2 separate regions of the Homo sapiens genome follow, and region 2 is linked to region 1. Evidence: fine-mapped expression QTL. A gene starts in region 1. The other region holds a variant in brackets. All regions are shown on one strand. Distances are between the middles of the regions. Region 1 holds the start of SULT2B1 (sulfotransferase family 2B member 1). Region 2 holds the start of FUT2 (fucosyltransferase 2 (H blood group)).

What was found. PIP is the estimated chance that this variant, and not a neighbour inherited with it, causes the effect.
Region 2: its variant is the best candidate, but not a certain one, in a credible set for the expression of SULT2B1 in lung (GTEx, PIP 0.77).

The regions. Positions count from the first base shown.
Region 1 is chr19:48,549,515-48,553,897 of GRCh38, forward strand. SULT2B1 (sulfotransferase family 2B member 1) reads left to right here and starts at 2,658. Exons shown (of 7, transcript NM_177973.2): 1 at 2,658-2,809. The coding sequence starts at 2,739. RefSeq lists an enhancer at 2,078-2,602.
Region 2 is chr19:48,692,086-48,696,468 of GRCh38, forward strand. FUT2 (fucosyltransferase 2 (H blood group)) reads left to right here and starts at 3,886. Exons shown (of 2, transcript NM_000511.6): 1 at 3,886-4,004. RefSeq lists enhancers at 3,157-3,720, 4,285-4,383. The variant G/A (reference allele first, on the strand shown) is at 2,362.

The DNA of each region.
Region 1 (4,383 bases):
TCCTGTGACAATTCATTCATTCCATCAACAGGCACTTATTGAGCATTTACTATATTCCAGGCTCTTCCCTTGGGAAATAACCGCAGATTTGACATAGAACAAGCCCTTCTTTCATGGGGTTGACAGTCTAGTGGGGAGATAGATGGTAAACAAGACAAAGAAGCAAAACATTTAGGAGGTCAGATGGTGACGAGTGCTATGGGAAAAAGTAAAACAGGAAAGAGGAATGGAGAAGTTGGTGGACGAGCCTGGGGGAGGTGACACTGGGCAGAGTCAGACGATAGGAGCCCACGAAGCTCCCAGGTATCAGGAACATGCGGGAATAGCAAGGGCAAAGGCCCTGCAGTAGGAGCCTCCCCTGGGTCTTAGGCCGCCTAGTTTGGCCAGTTTCTTTCCATTGCCCACTCAGGCACAACCTCAGGCCCTACTGCTCCCCAACCTTCCTGTGCCCCGGGGATGCCTCCGCACCTGCCTGCGAGTTTCCCTCTCAGGATCCCTAAGGACCTGGGCATTCCCTTCCCCAGACTCTCCCTAACCCCCCACCCCAGCAGCACACAGAGCCAGGGACAAAGGGTCATTGAATAGAAAACAAAGGTGAAGACAGCCCAGCCGGAGGCCTGGTGGGGTGTCATGGTTCAGTCCCCCACCTCCGACATCAGAGGGGTTCACTCAGCCTCAGAGGGGGATGCCTGGCCCTCTCACCCTTCCACCCACCCTGCAAGAGAGCCTTTTTATCAGCAGGAACATCAAGGCTTAACACTGAAAGTATCAAGGCAGAATGTTGAGGATGTGGACTCGGTAGTGGCTGGGGGCAGGGGCGGGTGCTCCCACAGCTCAGCCTCCTGGAGACGGGTCTTGGGGTGGTGAATTGAGAGATGGGATACCCCAGAACCCTCCTTTTCTGCTTACCATCAGAGTGAAGGCGGGCAGTGCTGTGTGCCCTGGGGGAAGCCACATTACCTCTCTGGGCCCCCTTCCTGCATCTGTTAGGTGAGTCTGACGTCTTCCATCCCCCTCACCTATGCAACAATAATTGGTCAGTATATACAATTTTATTTGTTTTGGCTTTTTTTTTTTTTCTTTTTGAGATGGAGTTTCACTCTTGTTGCCCAGGCTGGAGTGCAACAGTACAATCTTGGCTCGCTGCAACCTCTGCCTCCAGGGTTCAAGTGATTCTCCTGCCTCAGCCTCCCGAATAGCTGGGATTACAGGCACCTGCCACCATGCCCAGCTAATTTTTTGTATTTTTAGTAGAGATGGGGTTTCACTATGTTGGCCAGGCTGGTCTTGAACTCCTGACCTCAGGCGATTCACCCGCCTCGGCCTCCCAAAGTGCTGGAATTACAGGCGTGAGCCATTGCACAGGCTTTCTTTTGGCATTTTTTTTTTTTTTTTGAGATGGAGTCTCTCTCTGTCGCCCAGGCTGCAGTGCAGTGATGTGATCTCAGCTCACTCCAACCTCCACCTCCCAGGTTCAAGCGATTCTCGTGTCTCAGCCTCCCAAGTAGCTGGGATTACAGGCACCTGCCACCACTGGTGGGGAGACTGGCTTCATGACTCCAGGACTCTGAGGGGTCAGGGACCAACAGCTGGGGAGGGCCAGGGTTTGGGGTGGGGGCAGAAGAGAAGAGAACACCGTCTATGCTGAGCTCACTGTGTACCAGATCCTCCACCAGCAGCTGAGAGTGTCTCCCTCAGTCCTCACAACAGCCCGATGGGTGCCATTCACAGATGGGGAAACTAAGGCAAGATGAGCCTATGAGCAAGATGGTTCCCGGCCCCACAGCTGGGAGGCACTGGAGCTGGGATTTGAACCAGGGCTGTGACCTTCAGACTCTCACGCCCAACCATATCTGGCAGTTGTCTCTCATATCTGTGTCTCTCCCTGTCCCTGACCTTTCTATGTATCTCTGTCTCTGCCCTCTGTATATCGCTGCTGGGTCTCTCAGGGTCTCTGACCCCTGTGTGTCTCTGTCTCCTCTGGGTGTCCGTGTGTCTCTGTCTCCGCCCTCCGTGTATCTCTGTTGCGTCTCTCAAGGTCTCTGGCCCCTGTGCATCTCAGTCCCCTCCTGGTCTCTGTCTCCCATGCCCTCTGCCCTCTCCCTTTCTCCCTGGCTCCCGCCCTGTCTGTGCTGCCGTGGTCCTGGCTGTGCCTCTGTCCCTGTGTCTGTTTCCAGGGTGCCCCTTACGCGTCAGCCCGTGAGGGCAAGTTTCTGTCTGCCCCTTCCCCAGCGGTGGCCTAGTGCTTGGAACAGCGCCTGGCAGACAGGAGATGCTCAGTAAATATTTCTCAAATGAATAAAGGAATGAATGAGTGAATGAATGAATGAATGAATGAACTCGCTGAGATGGGCGAGATCAGCGCCATTTCCCAAATGAGCAACGTGGGCTCCAGGTGGGTGCCCACAGGCCCAGAACTGCCAGCCCGGAAGGTTCTGGCGTGGGCTTGGCACTGACCCCCTGGACTCTGCCCCCAGCTGAGCACCAGACGCCAGGACGTGCCCATCACTGCTCCTCCCCGCCCTCAGAGCAGGGTGGCTCCCTCTGGCCTCTCCCCGCTGTTGGAGGCGTGGGTAGCAGCTGGGAGAACCGGCTGGGTGCTGCCCCTCCCCTTGGGCCGGGCACGGAGTAGGCACCTGGCGGGCTCCCCAGGTGGCAGACGCTGTCGCTGCGCACACCTGGCCTCTGTGCCGCCTGCTCCCTGCTCGTCCTCCCCTCCCCACCCTCACCCACCTGCCATGGACGGGCCCGCCGAGCCCCAGATCCCGGGCTTGTGGGACACCTATGAAGATGACATCTCGGAAATCAGGTGAGGCCCAGACCTGGGCAGGAGCCAGGAGATCCCAGGGAGGAGGTGGCTGTTTGGGGGAGCCGGGGACTGTGGCAAGGGTGGCCTCCAGCCACCCGCAGCCGCAGGCCTGGCCCAGACTTAGCTGGAGGGGCTGGGCTGGGCTGGGGCATCCAGTGTGGTGTATAGGTCCCTCCTGAGAAGGGAGTGAGGACCCGACCGTGTTGAGTCACCAGTGGGGATGCCTGGGGTGTCCCTGTCGCTCTCCGGGCCTCAGTTTTTCTGTCTGTCAAAGGGGCCCACAAGCCCTGTGTCTCCCTGATAGAGCAGTGGAAGAGAGCAGGCAGCTTGGTGCATAGTAGTTGCTCAGGAAACACAACAGCCTGTAGTACCCAGGACACCCCATGCAAGCCCTGAAATAACGGGGGTGCTTGGGGGTGAAATGGGAGAGACTGGGATGCTGCTGAGACCCCCAGAGGGAGAAGCTGTGTTCTAGGGCACTTGGGGCGGAGAGGGCAGGCTCTGGACTCTTCAGGTCTCCTAACAGTGGTTAGGGCAGAGCACTGCCCACTTCCATGAGCTCAGCGTGACTCCCTCTTCCTGGGGATGAGTCAGACACTTTGACAGTACCTGCTTTCCAGATGGGGAAACTGAGGCTGGGAGGGAACGCGACATGACCGCAATTACGCAGCTAGAAGCAAATCTGAACCCGGTCTGTCTCACGCCAGAGCCTGTGGTTTCTCCTGCTCCTCACAGCCTTGGTGATGTCCCCTTTACACCCCTCCCCGTGGCTCCATCTTTTAGGGGAGCGCAGAGGCCCAGAGAGGGCAGGCAGCCTGCCCCAGATCACACAGCAAACTGCTGAGACAATCTCCAACCCCTCGTATCTTGCACTCTTGCCAAGTGAGACCTTCCTGGCAGCCTGGGCCCCTCCAGCCACCGTGGGCTGTGAGGAGGGAGACAACCAAGACCTGTTCTCAGCCCAGTTGCCTCATTCCTTTCTTATTTTATTTTATTTTTTTGAAATGGAGTTTCGCTCTTGTTGCCCAGGCTGGAGTGCAATGGCACGATATCAGCTCACTGCAGCCTCCGCGTCCTGGGTTCAAGTGATTCTCCAGCCTCAGCTTCCCAAGTAACTGGGATTACAGGAGCCCGCCACCATGCCCGGCTAATTTTATTTTTGTATTTTTAGTAGAGAAAGGGTTTCACCATGTCGGCCAGGCTGTTCTTGAACTCCTTGCCTCAGGTGATCCACCTGCCTCGGCCTCCCAAAGTGCTGGGATTACAGGCGTGGGCCACCACGCCTGGCCGCCTCATTTCATTCCACTGTTTCAGGCCCTCCCCTCCCCTCCCTCAGCCAGAAGCTGGGGCATGAAGAGGCCTTCCTGGGTGCCTGGGACTCCAGAGACAGGAGCAGTTCAATCCTGATTGCTGTGTGACCTAGACAAGCTTCCTGATGTCTCTGGGCCTCCTGGGCTGAGAGCTGTGACCAGGCTGGCCCAGTTCTGCGTGAGGGAGGCCCCAGCATTCTTTACTCAACATTGTCTAATCCAGGACTTCTGAGTTCTGCAATTCTTCTCTCCAGAGATAAACAG
Region 2 (4,383 bases), 140 kb after region 1:
TCTTGCTCTTTTGCCCAGGCTGGAGTGCAGTGGTGCGATCTCGGAACACTGAAACCTCCACCCCACCCCGCCTCTGCCTCCCAGGTTCAAGCAATTCTTCTGCCTCAGCCTCCCAGGTAGCTGAGATTACAGGTGCTCACCACCACACAGCCAGCTAATTTTTGTATTTTTTTTTTTTTAGTAGAGACAGGGCTTCACTATGTTGACCAGGCTGGTCTCAAACTCGTGACCTCAAACGATCTACCTGCCTTGGCCTCCCAAAGTGCTGGGATTACAGGCATTAGCCACTGCGTTTGACCTCTCCATTTTTACCTGTATAAATGAGTTCCACTTTTCCCCATACTGGAAGCACTGATCACCATTCTTCGGTGTCCTTGTGTCCCTGGACAGCCACCCTCACACACTTGTGTTTAAAAAAACTTTTCTTATTTTTTTCTTGAGATGGAGTCTCGTTCTGTCACCCAGGCTGGAGTGCAGTGGCGTGATCTCAGCTCACTGCAACCTCCACCTCCCAGGTTCAAGCAATTCTCATGCCTCAGCTTCCCGAGTAGCTGGGACTACAGGTGTGCACCACCACACCCAGGTAATTTTTGTATTTTTAGTAGAGACTGGGTTACAGCATGTTAGCCAGGCTGGTCTCGAACTCCCGGTCTCAAGCAATCTGCCTGCCTCAGCTTCCCAAAGTGCTGAGATTACAGGCGTGAACAACTGTGCCCAGATTTATTTTTTAATTTTTCAGAGGCAGGGTCTTTCTCTGTCACTCAGGCTGGAGTGCAGCGTCAGGATCATAGCTGACGCTGGACCTCCTGGGCTCCTCTTGCCTCAGCCTCTCAAGTAGCTGGGACTACAGACATGTGCCACCATGTCTGGCTAATTTTCTTTATTTTTTGTAGAGAGACAAGGTCTTGCTATGTTGCCCAGGCTGGTCTTTAACTTCTGGCTTCAAGCTATGCTCCTGCCTCAGCCTCCTGAGTAGCTGAGATTACAGGTGCATGCCTCCATGCCTGGCCACCACGGCCAATTTCAAGCTACCAATATGAGATCATTGAACATGCAATTGGAAAGAAATGCACAGTATTACATTGTTCTATAGCAAGCCTATTACACAGACATAATAAATGTAAATAGGCCAGGCAAGATGGTTCATACCTGTAATCCCAGCACTTTGGGAGGCTGAGGCAGGAGGATCGCTTTGAGCTCAGGAGTTCGAGGCCAGCCTGGGTAACATAGTGAGACCCCATCTCTACAAAAAAACACAAAATTAACTGAGTGTGGTGACGGGCACCTGTAGTCCCAGCTACTCAGGAGGCCAAGGCAGGAGACTCATTTGAGCCCAGGAGGCGGAGGTTGCAGTGAGCACATACATTGATTGGCACACAGATTGGCAGATACTAACATACAGTGTGTTTTTTTCTCCAGAGAACTGGCTGGTAAGTGTTTACCATAGTAAGAAGACTTACTATAGAACAATGTATTACTGTGCGTTTCTTTCCAATTCCATGTTCAATGATCTCTTATTGGTAGCTTGAAATTGGCCGTGGTGGCCAAGCATGGGGGCGTGCACCAGTAAGGGAAAGCTGAAATGGAAAACAGAGGGTTTAGGGCAACAGTCCTGAATTCCGGAGTGCTGTCCCCCTGGGGGAGTTATGGGAATCTGTGGGGGTTGTTTTTAGTTGTCACAGTGGAGGTCCTAGGATGCTACCACAGCGTTTACGCGGCTGGGGTCAGCGACAATAAAAGTTACGCAATGAAGGTTTGTCCTGCATTCTCAGGACTTTGTTTTATTTTTGAGACAGAGTCTTGCTCTGTCACCCAGGCTGGAGTGCAGTGGTACCATCTCGGCTCACTGCAACCTCTGCCTCCCAGGTTCAAGGAATTCTCCTCCCCTAGCCTCCTGAGTAGCTGGGATTACAGGCGTGCACCACCATGCCCAGCTAATTTTGTATTTTTAGTAGAGATGGAGTTTCACTAAAAAAAAATGTTGGCTAGGCTGGTCTCAAACTCCTGACCTCAGGTGATCCTCCTGCCTCGGCCTCCCAAAGTGCTGGGATTGCAGGCATGAGCCACTGCGCCCAGGTCATTCCCATGACTTTGGAACATCTGTGGGACATTCATGGAGTTGGAAAGTCTAAGCCTCTGAGCCCCAAATCTGTTTTGCGTTTTTTTTTTTTTTTTTTTTTTGAGAGGGAGTCTTGCTCTGTCGCCCAGGCTGGAGTGCAGTGGTGTGACCTCGGCTCACTGCAAGCTCCGCCCCCGGGGTTCACGCCATTCTCCTGCCTCAGCCTCCCAAGTAGCTGGGACTACAGGCACCCACCACCACGCCCGGCTAATTTTTTTTTTATATATATTTTTAGTAGAGAC[G/A]GGGTTTCACTGTATTAGCCAGGATGGTCTCAATCTCCTGACCTCGTGATCCGCCCGACTCAGCCTCCCAAAGTGCTGGGATTACAGGCGTGAGCCACCACACCTGGCCTGTTTTGCATATTTTATGACAGCTCACCTCCCCACTTCCCCGCCCCACCCTGTTTCTTTTTTCCTTGTCGCTGAATCACAGGGAAACAGGTCGTTTGTCCTGTGGACGGGCTCACATTCTGGACTGGGCTGATTGCTGCCTCATGGTGTCGTTTCACTGGGAACTTTGTCCTCCTGTTTTCTGCAAACTGGTGGTTAGAGTGGGAAGCTTGATCTGATTTTTTTGTTTGTTTGTTTGAAGGGAGCTCCGTAGCTGGTAGGTAGCCTCCTGCTGCTTAGCTGAAGCTGGGGAGTGGCTGCTGGTTTCTCTTTCCTCCTGTTAGGACTGCTGGGAGCTCTGGTGGTGCCTGCCTCTTCTCTCAGTAAAATTCCTCATCCATCTTTTTTTTTTTTGAGACAGAGTTTTGCTCTTGTTTCCCAGGCTGGAGTGCAATGGTGTAATCTCAGTTTACTGCAACCTCCGCCTCCCAAGTTCAAGCGATTCTCCTGCCTCAGCCTCCCAAGTAGCTGGGATTACAGGTGCATGCCACCACGCCCCACTGATTTTTGCATTTTTAGTAGAGACAGGGTTTCACCATGTTGGCCAGACTGGTCTCAAACTCCTGACCTCAGGTGATCCACCTGCCTCGGCCTCCCAAAGTGCTGGGATTACAGGCATGAGCCACTGTGCTGGGCCATGGCTAATTTCTGTATTCTTATAAGGACGGGGTTTCACCTTGTTGGCCAGGCTGGTCTCTGACTCCTGACCTCAGTTGATCCGCCTGCCTCGGCCTCCCAAAGTGCTAGAATTACAGGTGTGAGTCACCACACCGGGCCCATTTGTATTTAAAAATTTTTTTGAAATAGGCAGGGCGAGGTGGCTCACGTCTGTAATCCCAGCACTTTGGGAAGCTGAGGCAGGAGAATCCCTTGAACTTGTGAGGCGGCGGTTGCAGTGAGCTGAGATCACGCCATTGCACTCCAGCCTGGGCAACAAGAGCAAAACTCTCTCAAAAAGTAATACTACTAATAATTAATTAATAAATAAATATAAGACTCTGAGGGGACTCAGAGTCAGCGAGAGCCTGGCCTAGCAGGACTCTGTCCCCCGCCTCCATGCTGCCTTCCTGGAGGCCTTCCTGGCTGCCTGGAGGAGCGGAGCAGAGTGGGGGCCCCTTTCTGTTGGGGCATCACAACAGTTCCCCAAGGAAGACCCTCGGGGACCCGGATGGGGGATGCGACCTTGTCCTGCCTCTCTCCCCCACCCTTATGGCCAGGCTTGGGGTGCCTGGTGCAGGTGGAGGAGCTAAGGGTAGATAACAAGATGGACTTTGTGGCCGGCAATGGGGAGGGAGGAGGGGCTACGGGCTCACCTCCCTCCCGCAGCCCAGCCACACCTGCTCTGGAAAGCCCTGTAGCTCCTGGGCGGGGTTTGCCAGTCACCGATGCTGGAAGGGTTTCTTTGGCCCTGAGTGAAGAGAGACCCAGAGGGAACACTGAGGTGCCTGCCCAACCACTCTGTCCCGGTTTCCTTCAGCAGGACCAGGTGAGAGAAGGTGAGGGGGCTCCTCTCCCACCCTACAACACGCACACCTCTGCACACACGCCCAGGCGGAGAGCAGGGATTTGGGACGTGGACCTGTGTGCCCTCGTGGGTCCCTGGTGCCCTCTGGGAGGCACCCCCAACTCAGGACCTCCAGGAGAGGAGGGTCCCTCCCTCGGCAGCCAGGACCCCCCTCCCCAGCCAGCCGCCCTCCTTAGCTCCCTCCCCACTTCCTTCCAGGTGGATCTGTTTCTAGAGCTCCAACCACCAGCTCCCTCCCCTTCTCCACCCCGGGCCACCAGGTCCTTCCTTGTCTCCTTCCCCTCAGCAGTTTCTATGAACCACCCTGGCAGTAATGGTGCAGATGGCTCGCGCACAGCTGGTGGTGACCC